Homo sapiens: one gene and its partner. The protein of the gene in region 1 purifies or fractionates together with the protein of each later gene. This does not show direct contact. Each region holds a gene or a part of one and is shown on either strand. Other genes may lie near its edges.

Region 1 (7,406 bases):
CTCTACTTGTCGTTACTGACAGGTCTATTTGAGTCACCACCGAATCTATCCTCCCCATTCTGACTGTGGGGAAGGAAGACAGAGAAGATAGTTACACACTTAAAAGTAAACCACCGAGGCCAGCTGCAGACAATTAAACAGTGAGGTATTAAAGGAGAAAATGGAAGCCTAGGTTTCTGCTTTACATTGATTTCATTTCCTGGGACCTTATACTATACGAGTTTAAATTTATTTGTATTTATGCTGATCTGAAAAGAAAGTTTAAATTTGATTGGCAAAGCAATCTAAGAGGAGGGGTGATTTTTGAAGTACGTTTTTTTCATTTATTTTTCTACCATCACCACCTAGTGGAGAAAACCTTGAACTTCAGACAGAGGGGACTAGGGTTCAGGAAAAAATATTACTACAGGACCTACTGGGTGCCAGGCACTTTACTAAATACTTTCACATTGACAAGTTCACTTAATTCTCATGACAGACCGTGAGGTAGGCATTCTTATTCCTCCTTTAGATTTGGAAACTGAGTGTGAGAAGTTATGTAGCTTGCCCAAGGTCACACTATGGACAGCTCAAAACCCAGGTTCTTGAAGTCAAGGTCTAGAGTCATTTTCACCTCATAGGTCATCCAAATAGCTCAACTTCATCCATGTATGTAGCTGTGGGAGACATGCACACACACACACAATCTTTGCTTTGTATTTTTCCTTTTTATTATTTACATAATATAGGATAGAAAAGCACAAGTAGAAAAAGGAAATGGCATTATACTATATACATTAGGTTTTGTTTTTATTTTTTGAGACGGATTCTCGCTCTGTCGCCAGGCTGGAATGCAGTGTTGTGATTTCGGCTCACTGCAACCTCCACCTCCTAGATTCAAGTAATTCTCCTGCCTCAGCCTTGCAAGTAGCTGGGACTACAGGCTCGCACCGCCACACCCAGCTAATGTTTGTATTTTTAGTAGACAGGGTTTCACCATGTTGGCCACGATGGTCCCCAACTCCTGTCCTTTTGTGATTCGCCCGCCTCAGCCTCCCAAACTGCTGGGATTACCGGAGTTTATATTAATTCTATCTCTCTTAATTTTTACTCCCATAGTACACAAGTTTCCCATGACAATACTTTTGAAAACCCTATTAACAATAAAGTTGGACGTAAAATTAGGTCTATATGCAACTCTACTGTCTAATCTTGAAACACGTCCTAAGAGACTTAAGGTACCAAAATACTAACAATGATTACAAGTAGACTTGTAGATTTTCCACAGCATTATTTTCTGAAAAAAGAAATTTTAGGCCTTATATTAAGAGATTCAAGAAATTTGTTTCCATTTTAAAATTTTTTGGATGGGTTAATTGATCATGTGGCCACGTTATCTCTATAAATGTTTAAAATCAGTGTACTGTATTTCCACATTTAGTAACACTTTTCTTGAAAACCTTGCTTTGAGATCAGCCCTAAAACTTGTTTTGCAAGTATTCACTTCTGTGATGCTCCTGCAATAATCCTTATGTGCTCGCAGTCAATGAGTTTTTACTCTCATTAACTTGATGAATAAACGCATAGACCCTCACGGAAACTGTTAACAGTTCTTAAACACAGTGCAGAGTTTCTTCTTTCTGGTAGCTTCCTGATCTCGCCGGCTCAGAAATCAACTGGCAGACCTTCCCGGAGACCGTTAGAGGTCTTAGGTCAGCATCTCTTAAGTTAGCCGTTCCTGCCAGTGGGTTCAGTGGGTTTGTGGTCTGACTGCCTTCAGAAATAAAGCTACAAGTCTCCACAGTGAGTATTACCACTCATTAAGACAATTCAGACCCAAACACCAGCTAATGCAAAAAATAAAAGAACAAAACACCCACACAAGCAAAAGAAAGCCAAGCGGGTCTCCATCGCCAGCTCTAGCAGCCTGCTTTTATTCTCTCATCTGGCCCCACCCACAACCTGCTGATTGGTCCATTTTACAGAGAGCCCATTGGTCTGTTTTACGGAGAGCTGATTGGTCTGATTTGACAGGGTGCTGATTGGTGTGTTTACAAACCTTGAGCTAGATACAGAGTGCCGATTGGTGTATTTACAATCCCTTAGCTAGACATAAAGGTTCTCCAAGTCCCCACCAGACTCAGAAACCCAGTTGGCTTCTCCCATTAATTTCTGAACTGGGGCTGCAGTATAGAGTTGCTTGCTAGTCCCACGTAATGAGCCTGCATTGCTCAGCTCTGGGGTGGTGAACGGCCCTGGGTGCCGTGAGGCAGTAAGCAGCGCTTCTCAGGGAGGCTTGGGCCGCGCAGGAGTCCCCAGTTGGGGGGAGGCTCAGGCATGGCAGGCCTGAGCCTTGCGCTGCGTGGAGGCAACTACGGCCTGGCGAGAAGTGCTGTCCCAAGTGCTAAGCTCCTCACCGTCCTGGGCCGGTGGTGCAGGCCGCTCCGAGCGCGAGGCTTATCTGAGCCTACTCCCACCCGGAACTCGCGCTGGCCCGCAAGCACCGCGCGCAGCCCCGGTTCCCGCCCGCGCCTCTCCCACCATACTTCCCCACAAGCTGAGGGAGCCAGCTCCGGCCTTGGCCCGCCCAGGAAAGAGCTCCCATAGTACAGCGGCAGGCTGAAGGGTTTCGCAACCACGGCCGGAGTGGACGCCAAGGCAGAGGAGGCGCTGAGAGCGAGCGAGGACTGAGAGGGCTGCCAGAATGCTGTCACCTCTCACTGCTGAGGGACAAATGAAAAAAAAAAGCTCACGGTCGGGCGCAGTGGCTCATGCCTGTAATCCCAGCACTTTGGGAGACCGAGGTGGGCGGATCACCTGAGGTCGGGAGTTCGAGGAAGAAACCCCGTCTGTACTAAAAATCCAAAAAAATTACCTGGGTGTGGTGGCGGACGCCCGTAATTCCAGCTACTCGAGAGGCTGAGACAGCAGAATCACTGGAACCCGGGAGGCGGAGGTTGCCGTGAGCTGAGATTGCGCCATTGCACTCCAGCCTGGACAAGAGTGAAACTGCGTCTCAAAAAAATAATGAAAGCTCACGATCCTCTTTTGGTAGTTTCACGTTACATGATGATTAAAGTTTAACTTGTTTCTCTAGCGTTTCTATTAATCTTATTTTTGAGCCTAACTTTTTTAGTTAGAAACAACTCTTAACCAGCCAGCCAGGCGTGGTGGCTCAGCCTGTAACCCCAGGACGACTCCAAAGGCTAAGGCGGAAGGGTCCCGGGCGCCCAGGAGTTCAAGGCTGTGAGCTCTGGTCGCGGCCCTGCACTCCAGCCTGGGCGACAGAACGAGTGAGACCCTCAATGTGCTCTTGCCCAGATGAAATAAAAATTCAAGTTTTGGCCAAATTTCGGAAAAGTCTTCATTCTCCCTCAATTCATTTACCTCTTCTAGTTACCAAAAATGCCTGTTTTGAGATACATGTTTTAAAACGGGAGACTTAGACAAAAGCAAAAAATAACATGGTAATTCATTCAAAGATGCAGACTACCACACTTGTTTTAATCTGATATTCTTTCCATTTCTATCCGTCTAGGACGTAATTGCACACGGGCGCCTCCCATCATTTGGTTGCTAAGGAGACAGAAGGCTGGTGTTTCCGATTTGCCACTATTACACAGCGGCCCGCGAGAAGCATCTCTTGGCTCGAAGCGCGCTGTAGGTGAACCGCCCTTGACTTAAACGCCAACACATCTAAAAGGGGGCGAGGGACGCTTTATTTTCATTTCCCTGACCACTACTGAGGTGAGCATTTCTTTCACTCGCGTACTTGTTTGTATTTTTTCTGCTGTTCACGTCCAATAGAACACTGGTTTTCTATTGGAGGCTTTTGGGTTTTTTCCCCCATTTCCCTTTCGTTACAAACGACCCGCTGCGGCCGCCTCCTGCTTGTCCCCACAGGCCCATTCAACAGCCCAGCACGGAAGGCCGGGAAAGCGGCGCTCGCCGCTCCAACAACCTCGCGCAGTCCGTGGCTCCTCCCTGCCCTCGCGCGACTCGCAGGCCTGGGCGGAGGGCTGCGTCCGCCACCGCGCAACCTCGCGCACGCGCACCACGCTCGCCTCGCAACCCCCCCCCCCGCCCCTCCCCCGCCCCCGCAAAGGCTGTTCTCAGAGTCGGAAATGGACGCACGGCAGCTGGGGCGAATGGCCGCGGACTACACTTCCCGAAGTGCCGCGCGAGGTATTCTCGGCGGTGATTGGGGCAAACGGCCACGGACTACACTTACTTACATGCCGCGCGAGGCGCCTCCGCCGCCGGGGCAAACGGCCACGAACTACACTTCCCGACACGCCGCGTGAGGCGCTGCCAGCGGCCGGCCGAGGGCGGGCGGACGCGGGAGCTGCGGACGTGAGGCATGAGCGGCGCCCTCCTCCGGCCCGCGAGCGTCCTGCTGGTTCCCCGAGCGAGGGTCTCGCGGCGCGGGGCCTAGCGGAGGGCATCGAAGGCCTCCGCGTGCGCACGGGTTGCTGCGGCCGCGCCGGGCGCCGGGGAGGGCGGCGGCCGCCATGGAGGTGAGCGGGCCGGAAGACGACCCCTTCCTTTCGCAGCTGCACCAGGTGCAGTGCCCCGTGTGCCAGCAGATGATGCCCGCCGCGCACATCAACTCGCACCTGGACCGCTGTCTGCTGCTCCACCCGGCGGGGCACGCGGAGCCCGCGGCCGGGTCGCACCGCGCCGGGGAGCGGGCCAAGGGGCCCTCGCCGCCCGGCGCCAAGAGGCGGCGGCTGTCGGAGAGCTCGGCGCTGAAGCAGCCAGCCACCCCGACGGCAGCCGAGAGCAGCGAGGGCGAGGGTGAGGAGGGCGACGACGGCGGCGAGACCGAGAGCCGCGAGAGCTACGACGCGCCGCCCACACCCAGCGGCGCCCGCCTTATCCCCGACTTCCCGGTGGCCCGCTCCAGCAGCCCCGGGAGGAAGGGGTCGGGGAAGAGGCCGGCGGCCGCCGCCGCGGCGGGGAGCGCGTCTCCGCGCAGCTGGGACGAGGCGGAGGCGCAGGAGGAGGAGGAGGCCGTGGGCGACGGCGATGGCGACGGGGACGCGGACGCGGACGGCGAGGACGACCCGGGGCACTGGGACGCGGACGCTGCCGAAGCCGCCACCGCCTTCGGGGCCAGTGGCGGGGGCCGCCCGCACCCCCGGGCGCTGGCTGCCGAGGAGATCCGACAGATGCTACAGGGCAAGCCGCTGGCCGACACGATGCGTCCTGACACGCTGCAGGATTACTTCGGGCAGAGCAAGGCCGTGGGCCAGGATACCCTGCTGCGCTCGCTCCTGGAGACCAACGAAATCCCCTCGCTTATCCTGTGGGGGCCGCCGGGCTGCGGCAAGGTGAGTGCGGCCTTGGCCGTTGGGCTTCCGTAGTTATCTCGGCGGTGGATGCAGCTGATGGTCGGAGAGCCGGGTGTGCTGCCCTCGAAAGAAGCCGCCTGCCTCTCCTGGATAAGGGGGTGCAGACTTGGGCTGGGCTGGGGCAGTGCCTGGTCCACAGGTGGAGTCTGTGATGGGTGTGAAAAGGGCACACACCCCCAGATTGGTAAGGCAGGCTTGCCGGGTTTGCAAAAGGACGATGTCTGTGAATCCATAGTTTTACAAGATGTGGACTCTTAGATTTGATCTGCCTTTATCTTCCATCGGTCTCCCCGCCCCCTCCCCAGACTTTGATTTAGTAACCGAATTCGCAAGGAATCAGCATGTTTAAATTGTAAAGAAACATTTGTATATTCCGTTTGTACATAATAACGGATTCAGCTTTGAAAAAAATCAAATTAATTCTGTTGTGCTTCCTTCCTTTTCCACTAGTTGTTGGTTTAACAGACTGGTATTTATTCTTAAGAATAAGTTTATTTAACATTCTTATATTCTTGAGAATATATTGATTTTACTAAATATACTCATGTATTTACAAAACTAACATAAAAACTTTTTCATCTGCAAGTCATTTTCATCCGGTATTTCCGTAACTTTTCTCATAATGCCTTGTACTCTAGAGAAGAAACATCCGTGCATTTTGGTGTCCAGTTCTGTGTCCCTTCGTGAGGCGTTAGCGTTCCAGATGAGGGCAGTTAGGATATTGTGAGTCTAGAAAGCATGTCATTGGAAAAACACTTGAGAAAAAAATGGAGGAGGTGAGCCAGAAAACAGAGAAAGCTAAGAAGTGCTTAAATACAGGATGCTTTTATCCATAATAAGGGAGAAGAACCAGCATCAGGAAGGGAAAGGGAGAATTCAGGGATCAAACTGTAAAGAGTTCTTGTAGCTTTGAGATTCAGACTCGTTTGCACACAAGGCTTTTATGATTTTTCTCCTATTTTTCTTTCTAGCTTTATCTCCCACAACTTAAGCACACCCCCTTTAACTCCAGTTCCTGGAATGAATTGCCCTTTTTGTGCCTTCTTGTTTGCACTCATGCCTTCCCTTTGGCCAGGAATAAACCACATCTATCCCAAATAACATCTTATGATGATGGTGGTCGAGTTGTTGACGTCTGTCCCCATGGATTTAGTTGTTAACCCCATTTAAGGGATTGAGCAGTATCATTCTTAGTAATTGTGAAGTCTTTACATAAGATCATGAGAATGGATAATCAGCTGTTGGTGGCCCCAGACAGCAAGAAGGTCCTTAGGGAGACGAGTGGGTGAGCTCATCCCACCTACCAAATGCCAGGCAAGAGGTTTGGGTGGTCCAGGCTGCTCAGTGAGATGGGCGTTGGTCATTTGCAAGCCTAGGCATCTGTGACTTGCGAGCCTGATTCCAAAAGGCAGGCAGGCGGGGATTTCTGAAAGAAGCAGCCACAGAATGGGTGCTCTACAACTTTTAGAAAAGAAAGTACCACCTTTCCATTTAGGTGCAGATTTGTCACAGTCATTAAACAGTCTTCAGTTTTTCTTCTCATCCTTTAGTACTAATAACAACATTCATATTAATAACAGCATATACATATTTGTTGAGGACCCAAGAAGTGCTTTACCTGGGTCTCCTTGGTTTTCTAGTAATTGCTAATGTGACCACAGTGCTGCCCTTCATCTCCTACCAGAGTGAACATGCAGAAGTGGCCTACAGTCATCTCAAATGCTAGGTGGATGTCATTGGTCTCAAGGCAAATGCTCCCTCACTCTCCTTTTCTCAGCTGTCCTGAGCTTCCAGTTCGGGCTGTGGTTCTGCGATGAGTTCTGCACCTAGATCCTTCCGTGCTGTCTCGGCTAGAGGAGGGAGAATTTTCTCTTTGGTGAGAGGTCACAGCTGTCACTCTGCTAAATCAAGACAGCCGTTCTTTACTGGGATTCCAAAGATCTTAAAGAGTCACCCAAAAAGGAATCAAAGGTGGTTAGGGACAGAGGAGAAAAGGTCAGGATTAGCCTAAGGTTTAGCTACTTTCCTGTTTTATTTATAATATTTTTGTTGTTGTTGTTTTTAAATGTCCTG
Region 2 (3,457 bases), on another chromosome or scaffold:
CCTCCTCAGATCCCGGGGTCAGGGCCCCCAGCCCCTTCCTCTCTTAGATACAAGAGTCCAGACCCCCAGCCCCTCCTCCTCTGGGAACACAGGTGTCAGGCCCAGCTCTTCCTCGGTGGTGAAGCAGTGGAAAGAGTCGGCTTGGGCAGCTGTGGGTTCAGGCCCTGCCTCTGCCACTCTGCAGCCTATGGTAGGAAGGGCCCCTCTCTGCCCTGAGCCTCAGCCCTAAGAGCTCATCCTGGTCTCCAGCCCTGAGACCCGTGGAGGCACCAGCCTGGCCCTCAGTGCCTTTTGGTGACGCTGTGCGGCCCGCTCTCCTACAGAGACCCTGAGGGCGCGGTGGCTCACGCACAGGACGTCATCTCGGACCTGCTGTGCAACCGCATCGATATCTCCCAGCTGGTCATCACCAAGGAGCTGACCCGCGCGGCCTCCGACTATGCCGGCAAGCAGGCCCACGTGGAGCTGGCCGAGAGGTCCTGCGCGGGGCGGGTGGCCTGGCCAGAAATAACCCCCTCCTTCCTGCCAGCTGGGCCCACTTCCTACACCCTCGCCCCCACCCCCGCCACCCACCTGCCCTCACCCACCCGCCACCCCATCTCCACGCAGGATGAGGAAGCGGGACCCCGGGAGTGCGCCCAGCCTGGGCGACCGCGTCCCCTACGTGATCATCAGTGCCGCCAAGGGTGTGGCCGCCTACATGAAGTCGGAGGTCAGGCCCACCTGGCTGCCTGCTCCCGCCCAGCCCCCTCGCTCTCACTTCTGCTTTCCGAGATGGGCGGGCCTGCGGGAAGGGTGGGGCCTCCCGTGCCCTGTGGGGCCCTGAGAACCGCCCCCCATGGCAGCCTGGGTGTGGCCTCGGCCCCCTCTGGAGGTCCCCCCTCTATTCTGACCCCTCCCTTGCTTCCCTATGGAAGGGGCCCCAGTCCCTCCCCTGTGCATACAGCTCCCCAGCCGGGGGTTCCCTTGGATTCATAATCCTCCAGCTCTACCCCCACCCCCAGTGACCCACATCTTAGCCCCATGACCTCTGACCTCCTGACCCCTTCCTCATCCTTGCTTCCCCTTGTGAACTCTGACCCTTCCGTGGTGACCTGAGAGCCCTACAGACTCTGTGGCCCAGAGACTCCGTGACCTCCGACCCCATCCCAGACCCAGGCCCCCCCCATGTCACAGCCCGCAGGCAGGCCTAGGCCCTAAGCCCCAGGCCCCATGACCACCCCGTGTCCACCCCGGTGCCCTTTCCCTGGCTGCCCGGGTGTGACTGCCATGTGGCCGCAGGACCCGCTGTTCGTGCTGGAGCACAGCCTGCCCATTGACACGCAGTACTACCTGGAGCAGCAGCTGGCCAAGCCCCTCCTGCGCATCTTCGAGCCCATCCTGGGCGAGGGCCGTGCCGAGGCTGTGCTACTGCGTACGGGGGCACCAGGGGACTGGGGGCACCCTGGGGGGGCAGAGGAGATCACCGGCCCACCACCTGCCTCCTCTCCTGCAGGGGGGGACCACACGCGCTGCAAGACGGTGCTCACGGGCAAGGTGGGCGGCCTCCTGGCCTTCGCCAAACGCCGCAACTGCTGCATTGGCTGCCGCACAGTGCTCAGCCACCAGGGTGAGCGGCCCTGGCCACTGGGCCCCCACTGGCCCTCAACCTGCTCTGCCGTCACCCCAGATCCTAGACACCCACCCCATCGGCTGGCACTGCCACCCAGTGGGCCCAGGGCCCCTGGGTGGGTGGCCCCTGTCTCCACCCCCCACAGAGGGTCCTCGGCCCCCACCCCGGGAGTTCCCCAGGGGAGTTTTCCCAGCACACTTGCTCCGTTGTTCTCCAGCCTCTGGGGACTTTCAGAAGCTGGGATTGGCAGTGGGCAGGGATGGGGTGGCCCAGTTCCTGGCTGGGCCCCAGCACTTGGGCTGACCCGCCTCCCCACAGGAGCCGTGTGTGAGTTCTGCCAGCCCCGGGAGTCTGAGCTGTATCAGAAGGAGGTGAGAGGGCCGGGAGGTGAGGAGGGGCCAGGTGGGGAGGCGGGGGCGCCCTGCTCAGCCGCTGCCGTCCCCAGGTATCCCATCTGAATGCCCTGGAGGAGCGCTTCTCGCGCCTCTGGACGCAGTGCCAGCGCTGCCAGGGCAGCCTGCACGAGGACGTCATCTGCACCAGGTGTGTGCCATGTCCCGACCCTGGGCTGCCCCGCCCCTTCCCAGCTCCCAGGCCTGTGGGTTGTGGACCCAACCTCTGACTCCAAGGCCTCTCCTGAGCATCCTCCCCGCCCATCCCCTTCCAGCTGTGAGCTGTCCTGAGCCTCAGTGTCCTTGTCTGAAAAATGGGCCCATCCCAGCCCCCCAGAGGGGGTGGGTGCTTAGGGAGGCAGCGCCCGGCACCCAGTGTTGCCCGGGAAACGGCTGTCCTCCCGACACACCCAGCCAGCCTGGCCCCCTCCCCAGGGCGGGGCCGGGCTTTCCCCAGGGAACGGGTAGGCGGGGTGGGTTCCCACGCCAGGTGACAGGTGATATACGGCCAGCCATGGCCCTGCACCTCGCCAGGCACCCGCTGTTATCGGCTCCCCCCCCCCACCCCCCCCGTGCCTGCTGAGCAAACAGCCCGCTGCGGGAGGGGGCGGGTGGGCTGGGCAGCAGGCGGGGACCAAAGTCCTGGGAACAGCCCCCACCCCTCTCCCAGGCTGGGCACTGGGCCTTGGCTGGTCCTGACCCTGCCCCTGCCCCCACCCGCAGCCGGGACTGCCCCATCTTCTACATGCGCAAGAAGGTGCGGAAGGACCTGGAAGACCAGGAGCAGCTCCTGCGGCGCTTCGGACCCCCTGGACCTGAGGCCTGGTGACCTTGCAAGCATCCCATGGGGCGGGGGCGGGACCAGGGAGAATTAATAAAGTTCTGGACTTTTGCTATATGGTGCTTTGTGGTCTCTGGGGGACACTGTCTGGTTTCATAAGCCCTGGCCTTGGCTGGGACCCTCCTGAGGCCCGCACCGCCCCTCATCCTCAGCAAAAGCCCCCGGACTCCCACCTGTGCTGCCTGGTTCATGTGGGCCAAGCCTGCCTCAGTTTCCTCTCTGGCCCTGAAGGAACCCTTATACCAGCGCTTCTCTGCCCTGCTTAGGGCCCCCAGGTGTCTGGCCCCGGCCCAGCCCTCCCTGGTGATGACCCTGGGGACCCTGGTGGCTGCCCCGCCCTCCAGGTGCTGACCTGTTTCCTCCAGGCCCTGGGGCAGCCCCAGGCGCACCGGGGCTTCCACTCCTCAGCCCGGCCAAGGGGACCCCCCCATCCCCCGCCGGACCACACACCCACGATGTTTCCACGTCGGGGTCCTGGCAATGGGCTTTGGGTCTGGGTTTCCCCCCAGCGACTCCCATCTCTATCCCCGCAGCCTCTAACTGCCGTCAGATGCCCTCGGCCCTCCCGTCACCTCACACATCCCCCGGGGAGAGTCTTGTGCTTGCCCCTCG

What was found.
Region 2: the proteins of WRNIP1 (region 1) and POLD1 purify together in Homo sapiens (affinity purification with western blotting; 2 studies listed by BioGRID and IntAct, with this or other methods). This does not show direct contact.

The regions. Positions count from the first base shown.
Region 1 is NC_000006.12:2,761,133-2,768,538, forward strand, and holds the start of WRNIP1 (ATPase WRNIP1), read left to right. Parts: upstream 1-4,341; 5' UTR 4,342-4,490; coding exon 4,491-5,312; intron 5,313-7,406. Other genes in the region: MYLK4 (myosin light chain kinase family member 4), read right to left, coding at 4,211-4,341. UniProt on the Homo sapiens protein: Functions as a modulator of initiation or reinitiation events during DNA polymerase delta-mediated DNA synthesis. In the presence of ATP, stimulation of DNA polymerase delta-mediated DNA synthesis is decreased.
Region 2 is NC_000019.10:50,415,115-50,418,571, forward strand, and holds the end of POLD1 (DNA polymerase delta catalytic subunit), read left to right. Parts: intron 1-323; coding exon 324-476; intron 477-609; coding exon 610-712; intron 713-1,281; coding exon 1,282-1,414; intron 1,415-1,495; coding exon 1,496-1,609; intron 1,610-1,930; coding exon 1,931-1,983; intron 1,984-2,057; coding exon 2,058-2,155; intron 2,156-2,727; coding exon 2,728-2,833; 3' UTR 2,834-2,900; downstream 2,901-3,457. UniProt on the Homo sapiens protein: As the catalytic component of the trimeric (Pol-delta3 complex) and tetrameric DNA polymerase delta complexes (Pol-delta4 complex), plays a crucial role in high fidelity genome replication, including in lagging strand synthesis, and repair.